7 linked regions of the Homo sapiens genome follow. The protein of the gene in region 5 purifies or fractionates together with the protein of the main gene of each other region. This does not show direct contact. Each region holds a gene or a part of one and is shown on either strand. Other genes may lie near its edges.

Region 1 (3,500 bases), on a different chromosome or scaffold from region 5:
CCACACAATTAGGCAATTTTACAAATTACTTACTCCTGCTTGGTTATACCAATCAGAATGTGGTAGGTGAGATATGTTATGATAGAGACAGGTAAAAAAGGAAACATAAAAAAAGGATCTTTGGTAAACAAGTCTTTAGTAATGTTGAGCAGATACAGTAAGATAGCTCAGAAAATTCTAAAAGTATAATGAGGGTTGTTTTGAAAACCTCATTAGCATAATGATATTTAGAGCATTTCTGAATAGCAGAATTTTAAAAACACAAAGCACTTAGCTGCATTTTCTTTTCAATCTATATTTTTGTCAAACTAAAGCCTCTTCCAAATAGCAGCCTAACAAACTTCCAGGGACTAGTCAGATTCCTTACTGGTGCAGGTGTTTCATTGCACTAAATACTGTTTGAAATAAGTAGAGCATTCAGGCTTTAAAATCACTTTGTTGTACTAAGTCAACTGTAATAGCAATTTTGGAAATTCAATTTAGCTCATTCCAAGAGTTTCCAAACATTACTAAGAAGACTACTTTCAGAACAAAAATGTCATCAATTCCCATTCTAAAAAATGGAAATGAATAAAGAAAGGACTATTTGTATATATTAACGCCTTAGCTAAGCAGCCAATTTAAAGACACAAATTGTAAAACACAAATTATATATTTGATTTTTAAAAACAAAACAACAAAAAAAATCTGATGTCTATCTGCAATGAAGCAGAAGCCAAACATCATCAGCATGTTCTAATCTAGAATAATCTCACTAAACCTACCTCAGAATGAGTTTCAGATAGGTAGCCTCTGTGTTGGTAATTTTGGAAGAGAAATATATGCTCATAACACAAAAAGGTGACTAACACTAAGACAGTTAAATCTATACCTATAGAAGCTCAAGTGCATTCTTACTTCTGTTTTGTGATTTTTATTTGTAAACTCACTCAGTTCCACTGATGAAGACAAATTGCTTAGCCCCACTAAAACTGCGTATTAGCCCAGGAATCCTAACAAGTTGTCAGAATTTTCCTTTTTCTAAAACAGTATTTCTAAACCTAGAATGAGGGTATCTATTCAAGTGATTATTATTTTCAAGAAAATGAGTTAATACTTCCAGAAGGATGTAAAATATATTTCTCCTTAGAGAATGATAAAGCAGTCAGGTGCAGTAGCTAACATCTGTAATTCCAGCACTTTGGGAGGATCGCTTGAGCCTAGGAGTTTGAGACCAGCTGGGGCAACACAACAAGACCCCATCTCTATAAAAAATTAAAAATAGCCAAGGATGGTGGCACACACCTGTAGTCCTAGCTAAGCTACTTGGGCAGCTGAGGCAGGAGGATGGCTTGAACACAAGAGTTTGAGGTTACAGTGAGCTATGATTGTGTCACTGCACTCCAGCCTGGACGACAAAGCAAGATCCTGTCTCAAAAAAAAAAAAAAAAAAAAAGGCCAGGCATGGTGGCTCACACCTATAATCCTAGCACTTTGGGAGGCCAAAGCGGGCAGATTGCCTGAGCTCAGGAGTTCAAGACCAGCTGGGCAACACAGTGAAACCCCATCTCTACTAAAATACAAAAACTTAGCTGGGCGTGGCAGCATGCGCCTGTAGTCCCAGCTACTCGGGAGGCTGAGGCGGAGGCTGCACAGTAAGCCGAGATGGCACCACTGCACTCCAGCCTGGGCAACAGGGAGAGATTCCGTCTCCCAAAAAAAAAGATGCCTTGCCATCTCGGGTTGGGAGAGCTCTAAACTTAGGAAATAAGCAATCTGTATTTTGATAATTCCTAAATAAAAAATGAAACACTAACAATATAAAGAAAACTGTCTTGCTGTAAAAATCAAAACCACATCCTTTAGTTTTACAATTGGGTTTTCTGGCATAAACAATGACAACTTGCGAATACAAAGGAAAAACCTGGCCATTTTCTGTTTATTGACCTATTTTTGAAATGCAGAAACTTTGGCTGGGCGCAGTGACTCACACCTATAATCCCAGCACTTTGGGAGGCCAAGGCGGGCGGATTGCCTGAGTTCAGGAGTTCGAGACCAGCCTGGGCAACACAGTGAAACCTTATCTCTGCTAAAATACAAAAAATTTAGCTGGGTGTGGCGGCATGCGCCTGTAATCCCAGCTACTTGGGAGGCTGAGGCAGGCTAATCACTTGAACCTGGGAGGTAGAGGTTGCAGTGAGCTGAGATTGTGCCACTGCACTCCAGCCTGGTGATGGAGCGAGACTTTGTCTCAAAAAAAAAAAAAATTACAGAACCTTTATTTAAAAAGGTGTGTTTTGCTCATGCCTGTAATCTCAGCACTCTGGGAAGCCAAGGCAGGAGGACTGTTTGAGGCCAGGAGTTCAAGACTGGCCTGGTCAACATAATGAAACTCCTGTCTCTACACACACAACACACAAAAACACACACACACACACACACACACACTCTCTCTCTCAAATTAGCCAGATATGGTAGCAGGCACCTGTAGTCCCAGCTACTGAGGAGGCTGAGGTGAGAGGATCACTTGAGCCCGGAAGTTCAAGGCTACAGTGAGCTATAATCACGCCACATGCTCTAGCCCAGGTGACAGAGAGAGACCCGTCTCTAAAAATATATATATATAAATTAATAAAAAGCCTGTTTTTCATGGCCCAGATATTGAAGAGAAATAGAAAATAGCTCTAATCTCAAAAGGAAGAAAAAAATGTAAAATTCAGCTGAAAGTCTGCCTTGCCATCTTGGATTGGGTGACCTCTAATCTTAGGAAATAAAGATACTACTTCCTCATTAAAACCTCAAACTGCACCAATAGTCACAAAATTTACCACTTTTGTGAAAATGTTTTCACTTCATACTAATATTATGAAAGGAATGCCAATCAGTATGAATTTCCCATGCAGGTCAAACTGCAGATTTTTGGCTTATGTGCTGTATATTAGGGAAAAAATTAAACCAAGTATTTTTTATGTGGTAGATATCTTTACATACCATGTACACTCCAGATATATTACTAATTTCAAACATCTGAAGTTTCCCTGAAAATTCCATTTAGGCACTTAGCATCAAAGCAAAAGAAGGCTGGGGCGGTCAATCATCTGAAGATGGGTTTAACACCTTCCTCTTCGACCCACTTCAAAGCATGGATTTTTTTAAGGGGGGGAGGTGGAATCAGATTAGGAATTCAGCCTGACTTAAGCCACTGTTATAACAAAGGTCAAAGCATTCTAAGTTTTGAAATGCCGAATTAATCTCTAACTGAAGGAAAACATGTCAATTATCACCATGCAGACCCACCAGAACCTTATCTGAGACAGCTTGCTAAAGCTAAGGGGCTTTCAAATCACTCAGTTCAAACTCACACCTTCCTTATGTCTCTTCCTATAACAACCCTAACAGCAATTTAAACACTGACAGTGATAAGGACTTAAACAGTTCAAGCTAGGAAGGTCGATCTCCCTAAGCTGTAACTCAACTTCTAAGGCGTAGCTGTGCCTGATTACACCAGAGACTATACCTAT
Region 2 (2,784 bases), on a different chromosome or scaffold from region 5:
ATATCACCTTCCACCTTGAGGAAAGATGAAGCATTGGTTTAAGTGGCTGAGAAAAACCTGGGTCTGTTCTCCTGGGTGATCCTTCCCAGGCCCTCCCCATTTCAGAGCTTCTCCCCCAGATAAGGAACATGTTTTTCCCTCCAACCCTACCCCTGGCTGTGCAGCCTTTCCCAACCTCCACCCTCCTTCACCACACCACAGAGGCAGCCCAGGTCCTGTTACAGCCCATAGGGGCTCAGACCTGAGGCTGGTAATGAGGGGTCTGCACCCTCACTCAGGGCCTGCTCCTCCCTTTCATAGAAGGGTCTAGAGGACCTGGGGGAGCCCTGTCCAAAGAGAGGTCTCTGGATCCATGTTCCCTGGCCTTGGGTGGGTTTGTAGGCAAACCTTCTTTCTCCTTCGCTCTCAGCCTCTCCTCACCCTGGGAGCTGCACCCATAGCTCTGAATGGGACTGTCCCTGCCCTGCCCCATTCATTCCTGGCCAAGCTCAGTGGTGACCACGGACCTCTAGCAGCAGCTCAGCTGCCCTAGCTGAGTCCACTCTGCTCCAGGCAGGGCCATCAGCTGGCTCAGGATCTGGAGTGTGCACGAGGCAGAATGGCAGTGGCATCGTCCCAGGGCCTAGCCAGGAATCCCATGGGTCCAAGGGGCTCGGCCATTTCCTAAACCTCATCCTGGACACGCTCTACTCTTCACCTTCCACCTTAACTGCTGGGACTCAAGGTGCTCTCTCTGGGAATGCAGCCTTAGGAACTGGGTGGGCCAAGGCCCTCACAGCCCCCTCGTCCTGGGATTCCCCCAGGTTTCTCTCTTCTTAGCCTCCTCCAGGGACACCCCTTCCCTTGACATCCTTGGTGAAGTGGCCATGCTACTCCTCTCCTACTGTGCAGACTGCCCATGCCTGAGTTCCTGCTGCCTGCAGGCCACACACCACTACCCTTCCCAGATAGAAACCTGCTGTGAAATAGGCCTGAACTGTCTAAACCCTCTTGAACTCAACCGGCCCTGAGCCTTGATATGGGTCCCTCCCTTTCCCTCTGGCCCTGATGGTGAGAATCCATCAGAACTCAAGGTTGAGCTGCCCAGGTCATTGCAAACAGGCGACACCAGGTCTCATTCACCTGTCTCATGTCAGAACGAGAAGGTCCCGGCCATGGGGAGAGGTGGGACTCTGGAAATTCTCCTTTCCCTTCCTCCCACCTCACCCATCTGTCTCTCGTTCCCCTCACAGTTTTGCCCACAGTACCTGTCACTCTAAATGACTCTTCTCAGATGCCAGGGAGGATGAAGCAGAGGATGATGAGGAAGCTCCAGGGACTGAGGGTGGTGGCTATGGCTTTGGGTTGAGCTAAGCCTGGGGCCATGGTGGGTGGTGCTGAAAGGGAAACACAAAAGTGACAACTCTTGTCCACGCTCCAAATCTGAGGAGATGGCTCCTTAGCTCCTGCTACCCCAGGTCATCCGGGAAGGCAGAGGATTTGTCTCCCCTGCTGTGGGGCAGCCGCTGTGACAGGTCCTGGGGGTAGGAAGGGAGAAGGGGTGCTCCCTGTCCTCAGGGAGCTCACACAGCTGCTGAGGGAAGCAAGGTGACAGCACAGCCCACCCTCCTGCTGTGGCGGAAGAGGAGGTGATGCCCTAGGGCCGGGACAGGAGAGTCTCGGGGCTGCCATTCGAGGTGGTTTTGATGGATTTCCAGAAACAAACCAAGGGAGAGGAAAGGAAAAGTGATCCTAGGAGGAGGGAAATCTAAGGAGAAAGGTCTAGAAACACAATGACGCCCACAGTTTTGAGGCTGGTGAGAAATCCACAGTGAGTGGAGCAAAAGCAAGTGCAGTGAGGAAGAGGAGTCAGGAGGGAGAGCATAGGCACCCCAAGGAGGAGGCCCCCATGAGGGGTTCATGTTCTTACACTCACTCAAACACACACTCACACTCACACATACATAGACTCACACCCACTCACACCCATACACCCACACCCACCATACTCAGACACTGACAGACAAGGGTGTAACTCGATGGCATCTCCAACATGCTCCCAGTGCTCCCCTGTCAGTTACCTGTGGGTTCCAGCCTCTTCTTCCTGTGCATCAGGAAGTCCCTAAGCCAGCTCTTGCAGTCTCTCATTGAGACCATCTTGAAGAAGGTGGTCAGTCCGCTATCCTTCTCCCACTTCTCTTTCATCCGCCTGGCTCCAGCGTGAACCACTGTCCACTTTCTGTTGTTTGAGTCAAAGAGGAGGAACTTCCGTCCATCGAAGCTGAACTGCCAAGATCCACGGATGTATCCATCGGCTTCACACTCACAAGACATCCTGACCTGCAGCGTGAGGGGTCCTGCCCCAATCAGAAAGAGATCAGCCCTGGTGTTTACAAATTCTCTTCCCTGTCCCACATCCTCCTATGCTGAGACCATTCTCATCTGGTCCTGTTGTCTCCTCCAAGTCCTGCCCTTGCTGCTGGGCTTCATGGAGGTCCCATGTCTAATTTCTTCTCCCCACACACAGAACAGCCCCTGAGCCCACAGTCTGCTCCCTTCTGTCCTTGGTCTCTTTCACTCACCACTGGGTGTGAAATCCTCCAGCTCAGTGTCAGCCAGTTCCAGTCTGAGCCTCTGCCCCACCTCTCTCAGCATTTCCAGTTGTTTTCCCCAGGCATCTGTGGCATACAGCTGCTCTTCTAGGTGACCCATAGATAAGACCTTGTCACTGCCACAGTCATAGGAGAGAAAATTCTTCTGATCCACCTGGCTCTGGACCTCACACCACTGTTGCCCATGTCTGGG
Region 3 (4,091 bases), on a different chromosome or scaffold from region 5:
AGGGACTTCCCAGTGGCCTCCTCCTAGGACTAACCTGAGCTCCTGCCCCCAGCCCTGTACATGGGAGGCTTTTCTCACACACAGATCCCTGGGCCCACCAAGCTATTCCCCTCCCAAATCTGAGAACTGCCCACCCCCGTGTGACTGTTGTCCTGCCGACCACCCTTCATGTAGCCCCTCCTGGACAGAGGCTCTAGTGCATCAGGCCAGAACCTTTTGGCTCCTGTGTCCCTGCTCAGTCACAGAGATGGCTGCCATCCCATGTCCCTGTCCTGAAGCATAGTCAGGCCCTGGGCTTGGTCCAGGCCTCCTCCCCTTTCCCACAGCCTCAGGACCCTGGTGATTGATGGTCACCAGGTGAAGGTCTCCCCACATGAAGACTGTGTGGAGTGGGAGGTCTGTGCCTATTTTTCTCATTCATTGGGGAATGGGCTGAGTGGCTGGGGGCAAAGTGGGACTCAGGGGCTCTGCCCAGTCCTTACTGCAGGCTAAGCCCTCCCTTGCGGCCAAGAGCCACTGGGCCCTCCACCTCCCTCTGGCTTCTACCCGCAGATCTAGATGGTTTCATGGTGACTCAGAGGAGGATGCACTCGGGCGTCCCTTTTGAGGATGGCTGCAGGGACCATCCAGGGACTGAGCCGAGGTGCAGATACAGCCACGGATTTGGGTGTTGTTAGACACAGAAGGGTGTGTAGCAAAGTGAGCCCCACGCATGCGTAGACTCTTCCCTCGGCTTCTGCTCTCCATGGAAACACAACTGATCACATCATGATTGATCACGGTAGCCCTCTAGGGCTTTCTTTCTTTTCTTTTTTTTTTTTTCCAGAAGTCATAAAGGGATATAGAATATACTCAAAGACCACCTCATGCTTTTAGTGGAGAGGCAAAAAAGGTTCGCTCCGGAATGGGGAAGCGGCTGCGCCCTGGACGGAGAGGGGCGGGGACTTCGCGACTGCAGGCGGAGGGAGGGCGGGTGTCGCTGGCGCAGGCGGTGACAGGGAGACACCGCCGCCACTGAGTATTCCTATGCAAGTTTCTTCATCTTCCTGTGCATCAGTGTTTACACTGGGGTAATGATAAATGCTGTGTTGAAAAATTATTTGATGGGGCCATGGAAGGAACGGAAGGAACGGCGTCCTGGCCCGCTCGGGGCCCGCGCACGCCGCCACCAAGCCGCGGGGGCGGGTCGGAGGGGAGAGTTGCGTCAGCCAGGCCGCTGTCAGATGACGAGCCCGGGGCGTGACGGGGTGGAGCATCCCCAAAAAAGTGCATGCCTAGGATCCCGCCCAGTGTATCCCTGCGCGCGGCGGGCCGGGCTGGGCAGCTTTATAAACAGCCGTGGTGTGAGCCTCGAAGGGAACCATCAGCGCCTCCTGTCCACGGAGCTCCAGGTCTACAATGGCAGCGGCCGCCAGCCCCGCGTTCCTTCTGTGCCTCCCGCTTCTGCACCTGCTGTCTGGCTGGTCCCGGGCAGGATGGGTCGGTGAGTTCGGGGATGTAGCCTAAGCAGGGCGGGGGCCAAACCTGGGAGGTTGTGGACTGCAGCGGGTTTCAGAGGAGGGGAGGCTTCTGGAAGGACCGGCGCGATCTCCCTGAACGAACATCGCGGTCTCCCCGAACGTCGCGGTCCCTCCGAACGTCGCGGTCTCCCCGAACATCGCGGTGCCCCCGAACATCGCTGTCTCCCCGAACATCGCGATCTCCCCGAACATCGTGATCTCCCCAGACATGCCCAGCTGAAGGCACTCAGTTCCCCTCGGTGGCTCCTTTCCGCCGGGTCCGCTTCCTGCGGCTGCTGCTTGCCCCTCAGGCCAGGAGGTTTCTGGAAGGACCGGTGCTGTCTCCCCGAACATCGTGGTCTCCCCGAACATCGCGGCCTCTCCGAACATCGCCCTCTCTCCGAGCAACGCGATCTCCCCGAACATCGCGGTCTCCCCGAAAATCGCGATCTCCCCGAACATTGCCATCTCACCGAACATCGCGATCTCGCCGAACATGCCCGGCTGAAGGCACTCAGTTCCCCTCCGCGGCTCCTTTCCGCCGGGTCTGATTCCTGCGGCTGCTGCTTGCCCCGCAGGCCAGGAGGCTTCTGGTAGCACCGGCGCGATGCCCCCGAACATCGCGTTCTACCCCAACATCGCGATCCCTCCGAACATCGTGATCCCCCCCGAACATCGCCGTCCCCCCGAGTAACGCGGTCTCCCCGAACATCGCGGTCCCCCCGAACATCGCGGTACCCCCGAACATCGCCGTCTCCCCGTACATTGCGATCCCCCGAAACATTGCGATCTCCCCGAACATCGCGATCTCGCCGAACATGCCCGGCTGAAGGCACTCAGTTCCCCTCCGCGGCTCCTTTCCTCCGGGTCCGCTTCCTGCGGCTGCTGCTTGCCCCATAGGCCAGGAGGCTTCTGGGTGGACCAGCGCGATCTCCCCGAATATCGCGGTCTACCCGAACATCGCGGCCTCCCCGAACATCGCGGTCTCCCCGAACATCGCGATCCCCCAGAACATCGCGGCCTCCCCGAACATCGCGGTCTCCCCGAACATCGCGATCCCCCAGAACATCGCGGTCTACCCGAACATCGCGGCCTCCCCGAACATCGCGGTCTCCCCGAACATCGCGATCCCCCAGAACATCGCGGTCTCCCCGAACATCGCTGTCTCCCCGAACGTGCCTGGCTGAAGGCACTCAGTTCCCCTCCGGGGCTCCTTTCCGCCGAGTCCGCTTCCTGCAGCTGCTGCTAGCACCGCAGTCCAGGGGGAGTGTCAAAGAAGGCTGAAAAGGAATTGCAGGAGGGTGGAGGGACCAAAAGGCTACAGAGGGCAAGGTAGGGCGGGGATCCCTGGTGCAGACCCGCAGCCCCACTGGCCCTAGGGAAGGAGAAACCAGATTCCCGAACCCTAGCTGGGGTCAGGACAGGGGTAAAGGGGAGTTCCACAGGGACGCGATCACAGACTCCCCCATCAGCCACAGCCCTGCTCTGCTCTGACCTGCTGTTCACCACACAAAGCTTCCAGCAGCCCCAGGGCTCCCTGCCCTGGAACTTCGCCCCTACACTTTGCTGCAGACACTCACCTGCACGCAGGGGCTCACCAGACACTTGCTACCCTTCCCCTCACCATTCACTTTCACCACCCAGGTCGCATCCTTTCACTCCCCATCTCAGCTCACCCCTGTCACCACACAGGCCTCCCTCACCTCCCCATCCATGAAGGGGCCCTTAGCACCTCCCCCGACCAACTAGCACCTTGTCCCCTTTTGCCTGAGGACACACCCCAGCAAACACACCCCAGGCTTTCCACAAAACTTAATGCAGGGGGGACGGGAAATCCCATTTCCCTCACGATGACCCTGGGAGCGCCGGTGAGTAGAGGTGCCCACTTCTGCCCTTGGGTCCCAGACCCGCCTGTTCTTCCGACTGGGGAGCCAGGGTCATATAGAATAGTCACTAAGCAGACAGGAGTCAGCAAACCCTTTCTAGAAAGGAAAGGCTGAAGGCACTTTGGTCCTTGCTGGCCGTGAGTTCTCTGTCTGTGTGTCAAGTCCTGTCCCTTTGTAGAGCAACAGCAGGCAATGGTAACCTGCAAATAAAAGGGAGAGCAGATGTGGACCCTGTCCTAGGTTGCTGACCCCAGATGAGGGCACATGCTGTGTCCTGGCAATTGCTGCCCCATCCCCTAGGGTGTCATCTCCAAGTAGTGTAAGTTGAAGAGTCACAAGTGTGTCCTACCCTGCCTGTGGCTTCTGGGTGGTGTGGATGTGATGGATGTGAATGGAGGTCCTATGGTTCTGGGCCTACTGCGCCCCTCCTTTGCTGCTGGGTGGCATCATAGGTCCCTCAGGGCAATCAGGGACCCTCCTTAAAGCCTCAGGTGTGAGCTAAGGGTGAGGGGGTGCAGCCATGTAGTGTCCTGGGGATCGGGGCCAACTGCTTGTGCAGCTTCTTGGTTCCCTGTGGCCCTGCTCCTGCCCATCCCAGGAGACCCACCTGTGTCTTCTCACTGTGGGGCCTATATTCCTAATGACCTAAAGGGTGAGGAGCCCACCCTGTGATGGGCAGCTCTGAGGCTGTGTGGTCACTGCCCTC
Region 4 (3,500 bases), on a different chromosome or scaffold from region 5:
GAATATGAGAAGAATGAATGATTTACACATAGAAAATTAAATCCAAAGGAGGGGGCAATTATTTGTAAGTCCAAGAAAATGTTAAAATGCATGCACAAGAAAAATGTACCACATTGCTTGGTTCAGCTGTGAACAAAATTTACCTAATCATAAAAATTGTAAACACTAAGTATTAATTAAACAAAATGTTGCAATTTGACTGGGAGTATGAAAGCAAGGAAAGGAATATGAGTGGGAGGGCAGTATAAGTGCTAAGTTCTCATTTTGCAGTTTACTATTTAGTGGGTAATGTCTAAAATTGCTTAATCAAATAGAAAAAGGATAAGCAATTTAAACACATAGAAGTCTGGCCAACATTATGTAACCCCATCTGTACTAAAAATACAAAAATTAGCCAGGTGTGGTGGTGTGCACCTATAATCCCAGCTACTTGGGAGGCTGTGGCAGGAGAATTGCTTGAACCCGGGAGGCAGGGGTTGCAGTGAGCTGAGATCACGCCACTGTACTCCAGCCTGGGCGACGGAGTGAGACTTCATCTCAAAAAATAAATGAATAAATAAATAAAAATTTAAAAATTATAAAAAATAAACACATAGAAGTGACTATCAATAAAGTAGCTGAAAGAGTTGAAAGCATTTTGGGAACAGTAACTAGGGGTCAGCTAGATGAGAAGATTGCAGTCCCATTTGACATTTAGAACTATATACATAAAGTTCTTTAATAAAAGTAAAATTACAAATAAAAAAAAGCAAACCACTTATATTTTCTTAAGCTCATTCATGTCTTAGTGACAGCAGGTTTTGTTTAGACTCCCATGTGTATACTCTGATAAATATTTTTCATATTCAAGTTCTAAAGAAAATGTTTGTCTCCTATATGGGCTGAACAATAAAAGAAAACCTGTCCTTATCCTTCCTGACAGGGTAAGTTAATTATGAATTTAACTTTAAAAAAAATCAAACTAAGTTTAAGTTAGAAGTAGTAAAACAAAAACTTTTATAACTTTTGCTCATATCAAATTACTTATACTTTCTTATTCTTTATCTAATGGTTTTATCTAATTATGGGTAACAGTGTTAATTCCCTTTGCTCCAAGAATAATTTATAAAAGTCAGAAAATTTTTGATAAATTATTATTCAAATTTTTCCTCAATCTAGAAGCCATGAAGCAAATCTACTGCATGAGATTGTGCACTTTGACCTCTGCTGAGCAGGTGAGAGCAGGGCTAAGACTCAGCTGCTCCCCAAGCCAAGATACTCATGGAACTAAGCCTGGGCACGATTTCTCATTGGCCTACATAGAGAGGATCCTTTTTGCAACTGGACTTATCAGAGGACGTACCTTTTATCTAGTTCACAGAAGATGCTCTATATCCTAGTTGCACTTCTGATTGTCTGCCTAAATAAGTCTCTATTTTAATATTTTGATTAATTTGCATTTGGACAAAACTATAAGACTATGAGCAGTGCTCTAATCTGTAAGATCATGACCTATATTTACAGATTAATGACAAATGTCCAGTGACTTACCAGGAATGTGTTTCCACAGTGCCCACACACGACCCTTGTACCTTCTGGTTGGATTGGCAATGCAGGCTGAGCTGGTTGTTCTTCAGAAATAAGCATTACTGGGCCAAGGTTAATTATCCGTCTACTGTGAAAAGAGAAAGGAAACAACTTCACTATCCCACAAATGGACTGAGAGCAAAACCTGCAACATATGGCCAAAAATATGAAATGTGCTATACTTGTTTCATAAATTAAGTGAATTAAATGTCAAGCTGGAGGCAAAACTACAAAGAGTAGCAACAGTCAGTTTTTCAAAAGCAAAATATGAGTCTGTACTTGGGATAGAAACAATATATTATAGCATTGGTCCTAATCAATGGCAACCATTTAACTGTCATTTCCAAGTTTTTGTAAGTTCAAATCAGAAAACAGTTGTTACCCTTCCTTATCTAGGAAGCCAACTTGAGTTTGGTAGAAGACTAAGTTAAAAATATTCTATACCAACAAAAATCTCTGTGCCATGAAGGCACCGAAGGGCTGGGTTACAACCAAATTTCTCTGAGCAGTGTGATATTCCTTGATGCGTATTTAATCAGAGATGAAAAGAAAGCAAACAGGATCCTGCTTTCATTTCTATTCTCTAGTCTATCATTGGATAGGGCTGTACATGATTCATGTAATGGTCAAAAAGCTAGAGAGATCACAGAAAAAAAACACAAGTAAGGCCTTTATATACTTGTATCTGGGGACATCCATAATGGTACTGGGCATGAGCGAATAATTCCAGAATTTATTGCACATATACATTCAGCAGAGATTAGTATAATATACAGTGAGATACACAAAAATAACTAAAACACTTGCAGGTGAAGATTAATTATATCAAAAGTAAACTAAGTGATTACTTTTTTTTTTTTAAGAGATGGGCCAGGCATGGTGGCTCATGCCTGTAATCCCAGCACTTTGGGATCACTTGAACCCAGGAGTTCAAGACAGCCCGGGCAATATGGTGAAACCCTGTCTCTACAAAAAAAAAAAAAAAAAAAAAAAAAAAAATATATTACCTGGGAGTGGTGGTGTGTGCTTGTAGTCCCAGCTACTCAGGAGGAGGCTATAGTGGGAAGGCTTTCAGGGCAGAAGGTAGAGGTCACAGTGAGCCAACTCTTTTGAGACTCTTCCCGTTGAGACTCTGTCTCAAAAAAAAAAAAAAAGAGAGAGACTAACAGATGGGGTCTCACTCTGTTGCCCAGGCTGGAGTGCAGAGGCACAGTCATAGCTCATTGAAGGCTTTAATCCCTAGGCCCAAATGATACTCCTGCCTCAGTCTCCCAAGTAACTGGGAATATAGGTGCATGCTGTCACACCTGGCTAATTTTTTGTAGAGATGGGGTCTCACTATGTTGCTCAGTTTGGTCTCAAACTACCAGCTTCAGGCAATCCTCCCACCTCAGCCTCCCAAATTGCTAGGAATACAGGCATGAACCACTGGCCTGACCTCATTATTTTTAAATACGTTCAATGTGTCATTGATTTATTACAGTGCATTAAGTACTTACATAACACAAAGAAAACATTCATTGCTCATTTAAGAATATTATATCCTACAAATATCTATGACTAAGTTCAAACTAAGCTTATCATTCCTTTAACAAAAAAATAATCTAGATTCTGGAATGACTTTGAAAACAAAAACTCTTTCTAGAACAAAGCCTGGCACTGAAGAACCTTTAGTAAATACTTGTTGAATGAACAAATGAATGAATCAATGAATTAATCTTTATCTCTTACCAGTTGGGTCTTGGGCATCCTATTCGCCGAGATGTGTCCTTACAAATGAGAAGACAATTACAAGGGCATCTAACATATTTCTTGCCTGTTGGGGGGTTTTTGATTGGCTGGATAAGGGAAGAAAATGCAAACACAGCAATTAACCAAAGTACAGATTGTCAAAGTTTGTTTGTGTTTAAAAAGGAAAGGATTCCATTAAAACT
Region 5 (4,085 bases):
AATGAGTGGTCCAGCAACAGAAGCCTGTGAAGGAGGTCCAGGCCCGAGGGGGCTGGCCCACGGGGTAGGTGAGGGGCCTTTGACTCTTCCAGGTCACCCCACCCTGAGGGACCCAGAGGCATCCCTGCCCAGACATCCACACTCAGCTCAGGGTTCTGTGGCCTGGAATGGATGAGACAGCAAGTCAGCCTCCCTTGTGTTCTCTATCAACCCGCTTTGAGAGGCTCCCAGGGATTTTAGGGGGAATGGGGGGACTAGCCACTGACTGGAGATCCTGGGACCCAGAAACCATGGAATGTCATTCTTAGGAAGATCTGTGAGTTGTCCATTTTCTGCCACTGGGGGGGACAGAAAAAAAAGGACGACAACCAAAAGGGCTACGAATGGCTGGGCACGGTGGCTCACGCCTGTAATCCCAGCACTTTGGGAGGCTGAGGTGGGTGGATCACCTGAGGTTGGAAGTTCGAGACCAGCCTGACCAAAATGGTGAAACCCCGTCTCTACTAAAATTGCAAAAATTAGCCCGGCGTGGTGGTGTGTGCCTGTAATCCCAGCTACTCAGGAGGCCGAGGCAGGAGAATCGCTTGAACCGGGGAGGCAGAGGTTACAGTGAGCCAAGATCACACCACTGCACTCCAGCCTGGGCGACAGAGCGAGACTCTGTCTCAAAAAAAAAAAAAAAAAAAAAAGAAAAGAAAAGAAAAAAGAAGTCTACGAATTTGGAGCCAAATCAGCCCAGAGACACTGAACAGTGATACTAAGAGCAAGAAATTTAAGGGCTTAGAGATTTGGAGGAGGAGAGAATTAGAAGGCAACGGAGGGCTAGGGTGGTAGTTCACATCTGTAGTCCCAGCACTTTGGGAAGCTGAGGCAGGCAGATCGCTGAGCTGAGCCCAGGAGTTTGAGACCAGCCTGGGCAACACAGCGAAACCCTTGTCTCTGTAAAAAATTTTTAAAATTAGCCGGCTGTGGTGGTGTGTGCCTATGGTCCCAGCTGCTCAGGAGGCTGAGGTGGGAGGATGGCTTCAGCCTGGGAAGCAGAGGTTGCAGTGAGCCGTGAATGTGTCACTGCACTTTAGCCTGGGTGACAAAGCGAGACCCCCAGTCTCAAGAAAAGAGAGAGAAGGCAATAGAAGCATGAGAGGTTTTGAAGAGATACCAAGGAGCTCGGTTCTGAAGAATTTGTAACTCCAGGGATCTCGTGAGGAAGCCAGAACGAGGCAACTGGGGGCAAGCACTGAGAGGACCTGGGAGATGTGGCCCTGTGGAGTGGAGGAAGGGGTCAGTACCTGTGTGTGGAATTGTCTGCAGCTGGGGATGCAGCCCGTCCAGTCAGAGGCCCATGCTGTCCCAGGCGAAGCCCCTGAACTCGGCCTAGCCCCAGGCTGTGGAGAAGCCGCGCCAAGCCCCCTGCAGTCAGCGTCCCATTCTCGCCGTACAGGCCAAACAGCTGGGCCAGGTAATGGTTCTGCTCCTGCTCAGCAGGGCCCAGGTTGGGGACTGAGCCCCCTACCCAGCCCAAGACGACCCACACACAGAAGCCGGCCAGCAGATGACTCACTGGGGACCCCATCATTGGTGAGGGGAATAGCTTAGGGGCTCAGGTTCTGGCTCCTATTCTCCCCGAAACATCCTGAGGACTGTGCCCTGGAAGAATGAGGAATGGGCTGGAGCTGCGCTCTGCTCTCCAGCTCAGGTCCATGGGGGAGCCAGAGCTCCTTGCACCTGCTCCCCACCGAGTCCAGCAGCAGCCCCTACTGCAGCCTTCTTTCTCCCTTCACACTGCCTCCTGCGGGAGCAGCCTCTTGTTTGCTGGTTCCTGGAGCACCTCCCTGAGTCAGAGCTCTCCTCATACTTCATCCAGAGCTGACCGTCCATTCCTTGTCCCCTAAACCCCACCCCTCAACTTTGCCCCACCTCTTTATCCCCCCTCAATCCCCAGGGCCTCACCCCTACTGGCAACATAAGAGCTGTCACCTCAGGTCCCCTATTAGGCCTTGCTGTAGACGTTAAGCAGTTCCTGAGTCAGGGAAGGGGGAATCCAGGCTTAGCCTCCAGGTGTCCAGGTGGATCGGAGGCCACGTCACATAGAAGGCTGAGATGGACATGCACCCCCTCCTAGCCCACCTGCCTTGGGGCGGGGTCAGGGGTGGGGCCAGTGTGTGAAGGCTCACATAAGAGAGGAGTTAATGGTTCACTGGTCTCTGGGGTAGGGATCAAAAGTCAGTCTCTGCTGGGCCCCTGGGTAGGGAGGGGCCACCCTCTGCCCTGGGAAAGCCACATGGCTAAGGAGAACCTGGGCCTAGTCTTTTTCCTCTTAAATAATTCACCCTATCCTTAACACCATTAGTACCATTTTAGCCCTTTCCCTCATGTACTTCCACCCCACCTACCTTACAGTCTAGCACTAAACTTCATCTCCAACCCCCATCCCCATATTCCTTGGGAAGGTTGGACCCAGGTGTCCCTAACCTGGGGAGGAGGGGGGAAAAGGCAGATCAGTGGCAAGCCCAGATGCATGCATGGGAAATAAACTGTTCTTAGCAGTTTCTCACCCCAAGAAGAGAAAGAGCCAGAGCTCTAGGGATCGATGACCAAGAAAGGGGAAGCCCTGCGGGGGGAGAGGAAACAAGGATCTGGGCTCTCCTCTGATGTCTGACCTGGCCTAAAATCAGGCAAGCAAAGTCTGATCGGGGTGACTGGTCCAGGGGGTTGAGGTTGGCATTACCTGATAGCAGGAGACAAGGACACCCAGAGGAAGGGGGACACAACCTTCTTGGTTCCAGCTGGGGGGGCAGGCAGGCAGGCGGGCAAGGGTCACCTGCAGGGAGGGGGTAGGGGAGGGACACTACCTTAAAGGGGCAGGTCTGCTTTGCCTGGGCCTCCTTACCTGTAACCTATTTTCCTTCCACCTTCTAGGGACACCCCACCTTCCCAAATGCCTAGTTGCTAACCTCTTCCTTTTCCCACAGAAAGCAAAGGAGTCCAACACAGAGTAGAGTGGTAACATTTATTAGGAAGGAGAGACTTCAGTTAGACTCCCATGTCTCACACAGAAGAAACAGATGGTAACTGCCATTTCTTTCTTTCTTTCTTTCTTTCTTTCTTTTTTTTTTGAGATGGAGTTTCGCTCTTATTGCCCAGGCTGGAGTGCAATGGTGCAATTTCGGCTCACCTCAACCTCCGCCTCCCGGTTTCAAGAGATTCTCCTGCCTCAGCCTCCTAAGTAGCTGGGATTACAGGCATACGCCACCATGCCTGGCTAATTCTGTATTTTTAGTAGACACGGGGTTTCTCCATGTTGGTCAGGCTGGTCTTGAACTCCCGACCTCAGGTGATCCGCCCACCTCGGCTTCCCAAAGTGCTGGGATTACAAGCGTGAGCCACTGCGCCCAGCCAGTAACTGCCATTTCTAAAGAGGAAAGAGAGCAGGCAGAGGGTCCTGACTCCCAGGGGACAGGTAGTTCAGCTGGACAATGAGGGAGTATGAGATTAGGGTGGATAAGGACACTGCTCACCACCCTCCACTGAAGTTCAGTGGCTAAAATACTGCTACACCAGCCAATCAGTGGAAGGCTATCTTGCTCTCCAGGGGACACTTGGGATGTGGTTGGTGGCAGGAAGAAAGAATGTCATGCTATCTCTTGCTGCTCCTCCGGGTTTCTTTGCCGTTACTAACAGGGTTGCTGGAAGGGCCAGGCGGGCCTGCAGGTGTGTGGTTGGGCTGGCTTCGAGTGATTCGGGTGCTGGGTGGGTGGGAGGGAGTATGAGGGGGATGTGGGCCACCACCGGGACCTGGTGGGGCACTCAGTCCATTCCCATTCTGGTTCTCAGAGGCTAATTGTGGGAGGAGAAGAAACAAAGGAATTAGTTAACATAGGAGAGGGGTCCATCCCAAGGCCTGTCTCCATGCCCCAAAGAGTGGCACAGTCTTCACCATGCACAACTGCATCTTAATGCCAACTGGACCAAATGCAAAAGACTGTGGGCTGCGAGTATGAATGGAGCTCCAGAGAAGACTTACACGATCATTTAGGAAGTTGCTACATGAACCTCGGTACGGTATTTTTCTCTTGTAGTTATCT
Region 6 (3,942 bases), on a different chromosome or scaffold from region 5:
ATGAATGTCTCTTGGCCTGAAACCCCCCACCTGCTCCCCAGAGCCACCTGGCCACCACAAGCCCTCACCCAACTTTGATGTTCCTGACCTTGTCACCACTCCCCAGCCTTGGACAGAGTGGTGGGCAACTGGTCCTTCAGGAAACTGTCATCCCCTGAACTGAAATCCATGCGAGGCAGGGTTCCAGACCCCCAGCTGGCTGACAGCAAGCCCCATCACCCCCCATGTCTCTCTCTCTCTGAAGCCTTACGGCTCTACTCACCTCTCTTCAGGGAGTCAGGGCCTGGGCCAGCACCTGCAAAGGAACAGAACCACCTTGTTAGCATCGTTCTGGCTCTTCTCTGTGCACCAGATCTTGCCTTGGAGACCATCCCGGCCAAGGAAGTCCCTGGTGTGATCACGCTCTCAGTCCTCCTGTGGCGGGTTTTGCATAGTCTCACAGGAACCCAGAAGTCCTCTCTGGAATCCTAGATTAGGCCTCAGGGTTGTTCACCCTCCAAAGCCCAGGAGTCGAGGACTTTAGCCCTTTGTCCTCTGGGGTTTCAGGAGCCAAGAACCCCAGCCCCCTCTTCCCTCTGACCCAAGAGTCCAGACCAGACCTCTGGCCCTCCATTAGAACCCAAGAGTTTACATCCCAGCCCCTCAACTCCAAAGTCCTGAACGGTACCAAGAGCTGGGGAAGGGCCAAAGTTTCCCATCCTTGCCATGATACTATTGCCCACACCAACATGTGTGTCCATGTCAGAACCCACGCAAGCCCACAACCCAAGTCTCTACATCTGGATTTCTATGAACATAGCAACATGATCTGTGTGCCCTCCGCCCTCTATGGGCACTTGGCCTGGCATATGGACACACTGTGTCCAGGGACCCCAGGCGGGACCCCAGTATACCAGAGGTCATGCCACATGGGCCTCAAACCCACTGAACCCAAGAGTAGGGACAGCCTTGTGCCAGGGCACAGACACATGTGTCTTTCACATACATGTCTGAACATACACAACCCCCAGAGACCAACACCAAAACACAAACAGACTCACAACATAGATGGATACATACCCTCAAGGTTGACACACCTGCATGCAACAATACATGTACAACACTGACTCTGCCATGCAAGTTCACACACACAAATGCACAGATACAACAGAGAAACTCATGTGCCCCCTAACAGACAACCAGGTACATGCATTTACAACAGATCTACCTTGCACACTCACCAGCACACAGGGGCACACACATCTAACAAACACACACACACCTGTGCAAACATACACAAGTGCACACTCTTAAATGCCTAGACACACTCATACTTCACACATCTCCATGTTGCAAAGTTGATACAGCACCACGCTAACAGATACATACCTCACACACACACACACACACACAAAACCACAAGCATACAGATACGAGGCTGATCCACACTGGAACACGCACACAGGCACAAAAAGATCCACCTTTGCAGACACGCCAAGATGTTCACTCATAACAGACACATGCTCACACAACAGTCCTGTGATTTACACACTTCCAAATGCATAGAAAATACTGAACCACAGTAGCACAGTCAGTAGACAGGCCCAGATTCACACTCACACAGTCTTGGACACACATTCCTCCCAGCCCTGAGGCACCCCCCCACCACCCCACCTACTTACTTCCCAGGCCCAAGAAATCCTAACATCCCTGCAGCACATTCAGCATCCTGCCCTCCACACCCCCAAAAAACCAGGGCAAAAGCCAGGCCAGAGGTCAGAGTTCAGCAGGTGGAAACTCAAGAGGATTTGGGGGTTTGAGTCCTAGATCACCGTTTCAAGGAGATCCTCCCACCAGCAGCCCCAAAGGTTCCCCAGCCTGGCCATCAGGATGGAGGTAACTCTGGCTCCGTCTGCAGATGTCTGGCCGGTGGGGGAATTAGGGTGGAGTGGGTGGGGAAGGGCCGGGTCTTCGCCCCCCAACCCCCACCTCAGGGCCCATCTGTCCATTTCTCGGCCTCTCATCCCCCCTCCATCTGTCCACCTCCTGGCCGCCCATCCCCCCCCCGCAACCACCGGGAAGGGGAAGACATGGCCGCTTCCCCCAGGACCGCTAAGGACCCCCCAGTTGACATGGACCGAGGGAGCGGCGAACTCCCCTCCCCCAAATCCACACCGAGGCCTGGGCGCCGAGCCTCAGCCCCCAAGCCAGCAACCTGCCGTGGACTCACAGATACACACCCTCGGAGACATACAACCCGCAGACACACACACACACACACACACACACACACACACACAAATGGACACCCGAGCGGGCACACCCGGCTCCACAGACCCGGGGATGGACATCCAACCCGGACACAAACACCCAGAGCAGCTAGTCGCGCACGCACATGGGCTTGGGGGGGACCCACACCTGGGCACACAACCCACGCACACACACACCTGCACACAGCCCCTCCGATGGGCGCGCGACAGCGCCCAGACACACAGCCGGAGGGGCGGCCGCTCGGGGGGACACGCGTGCACAGCCGGACACGCCGGCCGGGCTCGACACCCCGCGCACACCCGATGGCCACACGGGCAGGGCGCCGCACACGCCGGCACCGGGCACACATAGGGCCGCGCGGGCGCACGCCGGGCCCGCCGCAGCGCCACGGACACACACTCGCACGCTCGCACGCTCACACCCGCGCACACACCCGCGCCCCCGCCCGCCGCTCCCGGGCCGCTGCAGGCCGCGCTCACCCAGCCCGGGGGGGCCCCGGGCCCGGCCCCGCCGCCGCTGCCTCGCTCCGCGCCATGGTGGGGGGAGGGCCGGGGGAGGGGGCGCGGTGCCGCGGGGCCGCCTCCCTCCCGCCTCCCGCCCTCCCTCCCGAGCCGCAGCCGAGCTCCGCCCTCCGCGCCGCCCGCCGCCACCGCCGCCGCAAGGGGGGAGGGGGCGCCGACTGGTGGGGGCGGCCGGGCGGGGCGGTCGCACACCCGGGATCCCCGCCCCGAACCCGCCGCAGACCCCTCTCCACTGCCGAGCCGCCGCGGGCCCGCCCCCGACCCTTCCCCAGCCCCACCCCCAGCCCCGCCGGCCTCCCCGGAGACCCCCCCAGACCACGCCCCAACTGGCCTAGGGACCCCGGATCTCCCTACAGAGACCTCCCATCACGTCCTAATACCCAGGGGGACCTCGGATCAGGCCTCACCTCTTTTGAGAACCCAGGCGATGTTCTAGGGCCACCCAGGACCACAAATCATGCCCTGCTCTCCTGCTTGACCTCAGACTATGACCCACACACTGTCAGGAACCCCAGACCATGCCCCCAAACCCAGAAGAATCCCAGATCATATCCCAGCATCCAAGGGGATCCAGACCACCCCACCAGCAACCCTAAATCATATCCCAACATTCAGATAGACCCCCAGACCACACCCCTTCCCTCACGGACCCCAAATCATACCCTAACATCGGGGGAGACTTCAGACCATATGTCAGCCAAATCCCAGATGGTGCCTGACTCCCTTTGGGGACCCAAACCACATTCTACAGCCACCAGAACCACAAATCATATTCCACTCCTTCTTGGGGACCCCCAGCCATGTCCTTCTACCCTCAAGGACCCTAACCCATTCCCTTACCCCCAGTATGAACTCCAAACCATGCCTAACTTCTAGGGGGCCCTAAAATGTCTCTTATCCCTATGGAAGACCCTTAAACTTTCCCCATGAACCCCATTAGACCCCAAACCATCTTCCACCCCTTTGACCTTACACCTTTCTCTCTCCTTCTCCTCCAAGACATCCTTTGGTTTCCAAAACTCCCCAATTAGCCCCAATTTTTTCCCACCCCCTACTAGTCCTGCCCCCTTGAGGACCCTGCCTCCTTCTTGCTCCAGTTCTTTCTCTTGGACCCTGAAAGTCCCCCCTCCCTGTGACTTCCATAGAGCCCAGAATGCCTTGCTCCTTCCTA
Region 7 (4,209 bases), on a different chromosome or scaffold from region 5:
CGGCTAATTTCTGTATTTTTAGTGGAGACGGGGTTTCACTATGTTAGCCAGGCTGGTCTCAAACTCCTGAGCTCAAGTGATCCAGCCTGCCTTGGCCTCCCAAAGTGCTGGGATTACAGGTGTGAGCCACTGTGCCTGGCTTATTTTCTTGTAATTCTTAAGTGAGACAACTATTTTTATCCTTTATTTCATAACTTGACTGTTTAAGGCTGTGTACTTTTCTTTGAGCAAAACTCTTATTACTATTTAAGAGAGTTGGCATTTTGTCTTAACTATGCTTGCTAGTAAGTGTCCCAAAATCTTCAGTGAGTCTAGTGTTGTTATTCACAGTAAAAATAAGATTAAAGGGAAAAAAAAGGTTCCAGAATATCATCTGTTCCCTCTCTCCTCTCCCTTTCTTAATGTACAGAGTTTTGGGGCTTAATATGATTAACTTCAAGATATGTTCTAGACACTGAAGTCTGTTAGGGTATTGAGTTTGATAATTATTAGTTCTACTACATCCTTACTTTTTACTGATTCAGCTGATAGGTATGAGTTAAAAACTCTTATTAGTACACTTACAAGCTAAGATTAATCAATATTTGAAGTCCTAAAACTTAGTCTAGAAATGCTTGATACCTATGTAATGCTTTGCACTTCTTCAGTTTCAGAATTAAACAATGTTAAATCAACAAGAATATTTAGATTAATGTACATGATTACATGATATTGTGACAATTTATGAATGTCAAAACCATTTTATTTTTACATACGGAGCACACAAAATATTTTAAATTCTAAAGTCACCACCTACAAGCTGTTTACACATGCTCCTTGACAGTACAAGCCAAGTTATTTGTGTACTTGAACAACAATAAAAATTTTGTCCATGTTCACTTTTACTGGAATGTTACTTGTATTACTTTCTGAAATTTTGCAAATAAAGGTTAGTTTATTTATGACTCTGTGTGAGAATGGGGACTGTTATTAAACAAGCAGAAAACTACAGCTAACAGAAGTTAACCATTTATTGACCACCATATCCAACTATTTTAAGAACATTACTGTACATTGAGATTCTCAGATTTAAAAAATAGGCCTAGATGGGGGAAAAAATGTTATGAAACCCTCCTGGACTTTACAGATTTAAAGCTTTTTCTCTAGTTTAATCCTACACACCAGGATGGTGTGAATATGTTCTTAATTTAGCAATAGAAGGATAATGTGCACAGCATTATTTGGTAGTACAGTTTAGACTTTTGCATGTTTACCTATACTGTGAACATGGTTAAATTTCTTTGCTAAACTGATCTTTATATTTTTATTCATTAATGTGGATAATTCTTTGCAATTTATTGCAAAATTTATTTACCATAACTTTACGCTTGTTTGCTACGTAAAACTATCTCATCATAAGGGAGCAGTTAATGAACTTGATTTTCAAGCAACTACAAGTGTCAAGCTTCTGTGACTAAGAAAACAGTGTAAAGTCTAAAACCTTATTATAATTTACAGCCTACATGGATCAGCATGATACAGATATGATCCTAGCACAAAGGTCTCTGCAAAAACTGGGGAGAGGGTGACTCCAATTCTCAAAGGATGTGAATTTCCACTAGTCAGCAGGTCTGAGTCAGCATTCAGAACAAGATCAGCCTGGGTCTAGTCCTAGTTACGACACTAGCTTGCCAATATAAAGACAAAGCAATATCTGATTTTAAAATCCACTGATCTGAGTTTGCTTTCATTTACCAAACGAGAGATCAGATGAGTCAACTCCTAGCTTGTTTTCCCCTGAGATGCGCTAAGGGTGATTCCAGTTCCAAAGCGGTAACCTGTGCTCTAAACCACTATGGGACCTCAAGAGTCCTAGCACCTTTTGATCCTATGGAATCCTTTCAAAGCACGGGCAGAGGCGGCTCAAAATGGCAAGGTCACTATACATTTCAAGGGCTTCTGTTTCAGAGATTACAAGTAGAGAAAAACAGAAGGTGGGAATTAAGATCAGCTAGGTAGAGCTGTGAGATGCAAAACAAAGGTTTTGCAGGAAGTTGAGGTGCTGACATACTCCATCTAGCTAAACTGAACACCAAATAATGGATGGAGACTAACACCACCAACACCATCGTCCCCGAAAATCCTTGTACAAGTGAGCTTCCTACAACGCGATGCAATATGCTGTCGCAGAACAAGCACTGCCAGGCTATGTAGCTGAACTTACCGTTCTCCAGGCGTCCATTTCCCCAACCTGTGAAAGGCGGGGAGGGGGTTGGACAAGATCACTAAGTCCTCTTCCGTTTCTGACACTTCACAGTCAGGGGTCCCGAGGTGAGGCCGAAATCCCAGTCTCCCGGGACGCAGAGGCCCTTGCGCGGTGCCATCCCCGCTGTCCCCCGGGCGCAGGCAGCTCCCGGCTCCTCCCCGCCCCTGCGGTTCCTGTGCACCAGGGAGGTGCCTCCCCAGCCCAGGGCGCGCCCGAATGAAGGGACAGCGCCTTCGCGGGAAAGGTCGCCCAGCAGCCGGACAAACACCCGCGGCAGGCGGGGGAGCCCGGAGCCGAGGAGGCTCAGAACTGATTCCGCCCGCGCCGCCTGGGTGGGGCCCGCAGGGACCGGGCCAGGGCAGCCGGAGCGCGCAGAAGACAGGGATGGGCCCCCAGGGCGGCAGCCTGCCCCAGCGGGCCCTTCAGCGCGTTTCCCCTCCCTCCAACCTCATGCGAAGAAAGCCCGGTGCTTCCCCACGCTCGTCCCACACTCACCCATCAGCGCCGGCGTCCCGCAGGACGGCTAGCGAGCCGGGGCCCGCGCAGGCGCAGACTGTGACCGACCCCGAGGTTGGGGCGCAGCGCGACGCGCTGGGCGCTGTTGGGGTCACGTGAGGGAGACACCGCCCCGCCCCGCCTCCCCTCCCTCGGCCCGCGGCCCGCCAGATGTCGCCAGCCTACTTCTCCTGGCCGCAGGCCGCCGCGGCGGGGCAGGTAGAGGGCCACGCCAGCACACCTGTCAGGATGCGGGCTCCGCTAGCCACCATGCTTCACCCTTGATGCCGTACGGTGGCCTCAGCGTGCCAGAAACAGCCAACGCGTTCTCTAGCGCGCTGCCTGCAGGGGGCGTCTGGGCATTGTCGGTTTTAGGGGCCTTGTCGGTTCTGCGGGGCGAGCGCCTTCGCGGAAAACTCCAAAGTACCCTCTGTGGAGCCTTGTTGAGTATCTTCAAACCTTCAGAGGGACCTTTTATCAGCGACCCATGCCGCAGTTTACAGAAGAACGCTTTGTGCGTGCTTTGGGACGTATGGATCACTTTTAAACTTTTTCCTTTGAAGCTCAGACAGCTTGCGGGGGGCTTGGGAGGAGCGCTGCCCGGGGAGTTAGAAGGCTTGGGTCAAAGTCATAGCCCTCATACTTCTTGAGAGTGACCTTGGGTGAGTCGCTGGACCCTGAGCCCCAAATCTCCGTCTGAAAAGTAACCCATGCCTTGTATGCGTCCTCGGGCTGTTGCAGGAGTCTTTGGAAATGATGGTTCTGACTCTGAGTTGGAAACTGGAACGCACACAACAGATGGGAGGCGTTGAAGGAAACAGAAAGGTCGGCCTGAGGGGAGAGGCGTTTCAGGAGGCTTGCGGATGTGTGAAGTGTGCGCACTGTGCTTGGGGCGAGCCCAAGCAGTAACCCCACCCGAGTGAAGCGTTCTTGGGGGGATCGGCTCCGGGTGGGCGACGTTCCCCGCGTGCCCCCTTCCCCCGAGAGCACTTTGTAGACACTGACTCCAAAAGCGGGTCTGGTCTCTGCCCAGCCCCACTTTGGCTGGCGTGCTTAGGTGCCTCTCGGGAAGCTGGAGACCACCCTCCCCCATTCCAGCAAACGCTCCATTGAGGAACCTACTGCGTGCCAGGTCCTGGGGAGCTTAGCGTCTGATGAAGGATACAACAACAAAAGACTGGAAATTCAGAAGCATGAGGGGACCTCCCCCCTCGAGGGAGAACCAGAGATGGCTTCACAGAGCAGACGTTTGAACTGGGCCTTGGAGGATGGATGAGTGGAATTTGGCCCAGTGGAGAAAGTCATAGCAGCAGGAGATAAGATTGTAAGGGTCAGGTGGTGGGGCTGGATAATGCGAATCTTGACTGTCAGACACAGACACCTGCCATCTAATTAGTACGCGAGGGATAAATTTTGGACTCCGCAGGATAAGGACAAGGCTACACAATGGCTTAGAACAGTTAATCGGG

What was found.
Region 1: the proteins of SLC39A5 (region 5) and METTL9 purify together in Homo sapiens (affinity purification with mass spectrometry; 3 studies listed by BioGRID and IntAct, with this or other methods). This does not show direct contact.
Region 2: the proteins of SLC39A5 (region 5) and ULBP3 purify together in Homo sapiens (affinity purification with mass spectrometry; 3 studies listed by BioGRID and IntAct, with this or other methods). This does not show direct contact.
Region 3: the proteins of SLC39A5 (region 5) and ULBP1 purify together in Homo sapiens (affinity purification with mass spectrometry; 2 studies listed by BioGRID and IntAct, with this or other methods). This does not show direct contact.
Region 4: the proteins of SLC39A5 (region 5) and PIP4P2 purify together in Homo sapiens (affinity purification with mass spectrometry; 3 studies listed by BioGRID and IntAct, with this or other methods). This does not show direct contact.
Region 6: the proteins of SLC39A5 (region 5) and LRFN1 purify together in Homo sapiens (affinity purification with mass spectrometry; 3 studies listed by BioGRID and IntAct, with this or other methods). This does not show direct contact.
Region 7: the proteins of SLC39A5 (region 5) and SLC25A51 purify together in Homo sapiens (affinity purification with mass spectrometry; 2 studies listed by BioGRID and IntAct, with this or other methods). This does not show direct contact.

What each region holds. Positions count from the first base shown.
Region 1 is NC_000016.10:21,620,077-21,623,576, reverse strand, and holds part of METTL9 (protein-L-histidine N-pros-methyltransferase isoform 1 precursor), read right to left. Parts: intron 1-3,500. UniProt on the Homo sapiens protein: Protein-histidine N-methyltransferase that specifically catalyzes 1-methylhistidine (pros-methylhistidine) methylation of target proteins.
Region 2 is NC_000006.12:150,063,338-150,066,121, forward strand, and holds part of ULBP3 (UL16-binding protein 3 precursor), read right to left. Parts: coding exon 2,562-2,784; intron 2,337-2,561; coding exon 2,061-2,336; intron 1,377-2,060; coding exon 1,270-1,376; 3' UTR 1,248-1,269; intron 15-1,247; 3' UTR 1-14.
Region 3 is NC_000006.12:149,962,652-149,966,742, forward strand, and holds the start of ULBP1 (UL16-binding protein 1 isoform 1 precursor), read left to right. Parts: upstream 1-1,291; 5' UTR 1,292-1,398; coding exon 1,399-1,483; exon of another isoform or gene 1,484-2,831; intron 2,832-4,091. UniProt on the Homo sapiens protein: Binds and activates the KLRK1/NKG2D receptor, mediating natural killer cell cytotoxicity.
Region 4 is NC_000008.11:91,016,860-91,020,359, forward strand, and holds part of PIP4P2 (type 2 phosphatidylinositol 4,5-bisphosphate 4-phosphatase), read right to left. Parts: intron 3,405-3,500; coding exon 3,298-3,404; intron 1,655-3,297; coding exon 1,531-1,654; intron 1-1,530. UniProt on the Homo sapiens protein: Catalyzes the hydrolysis of phosphatidylinositol-4,5-bisphosphate (PtdIns-4,5-P2) to phosphatidylinositol-4-phosphate (PtdIns-4-P).
Region 5 is NC_000012.12:56,228,766-56,232,850, reverse strand, and holds the start of SLC39A5 (zinc transporter ZIP5 precursor), read right to left. Parts: upstream 2,801-4,085; 5' UTR 2,729-2,800; intron 2,612-2,728; 5' UTR 2,556-2,611; intron 2,135-2,555; exon of another isoform or gene 2,021-2,134; 5' UTR 1,978-2,020; exon of another isoform or gene 1,951-1,977; intron 1,648-1,950; 5' UTR 1,577-1,647; coding exon 1,290-1,576; intron 163-1,289; coding exon 1-162. Other genes in the region: NABP2 (SOSS complex subunit B1), read right to left, coding at 3,638-3,837. UniProt on the Homo sapiens protein: Uniporter that transports zinc(2+) into polarized cells of enterocytes, pancreatic acinar and endoderm cells across the basolateral membrane and participates, notably, in zinc excretion from the intestine by the uptake of zinc from the blood into the intestine.
Region 6 is NC_000019.10:39,318,064-39,322,005, forward strand, and holds the start of LRFN1 (leucine-rich repeat and fibronectin type III domain-containing protein 1 precursor), read right to left. Parts: upstream 2,801-3,942; 5' UTR 2,730-2,800; exon of another isoform or gene 2,427-2,729; intron 296-2,426; 5' UTR 263-295; intron 1-262. UniProt on the Homo sapiens protein: Promotes neurite outgrowth in hippocampal neurons. Involved in the regulation and maintenance of excitatory synapses. Induces the clustering of excitatory postsynaptic proteins, including DLG4, DLGAP1, GRIA1 and GRIN1.
Region 7 is NC_000009.12:37,901,328-37,905,536, forward strand, and holds the start of SLC25A51 (mitochondrial nicotinamide adenine dinucleotide transporter SLC25A51), read right to left. Parts: upstream 2,801-4,209; 5' UTR 2,741-2,800; intron 2,231-2,740; exon of another isoform or gene 2,204-2,230; intron 1-2,203. UniProt on the Homo sapiens protein: Mitochondrial membrane carrier protein that mediates the import of NAD(+) into mitochondria. Mitochondrial NAD(+) is required for glycolysis and mitochondrial respiration.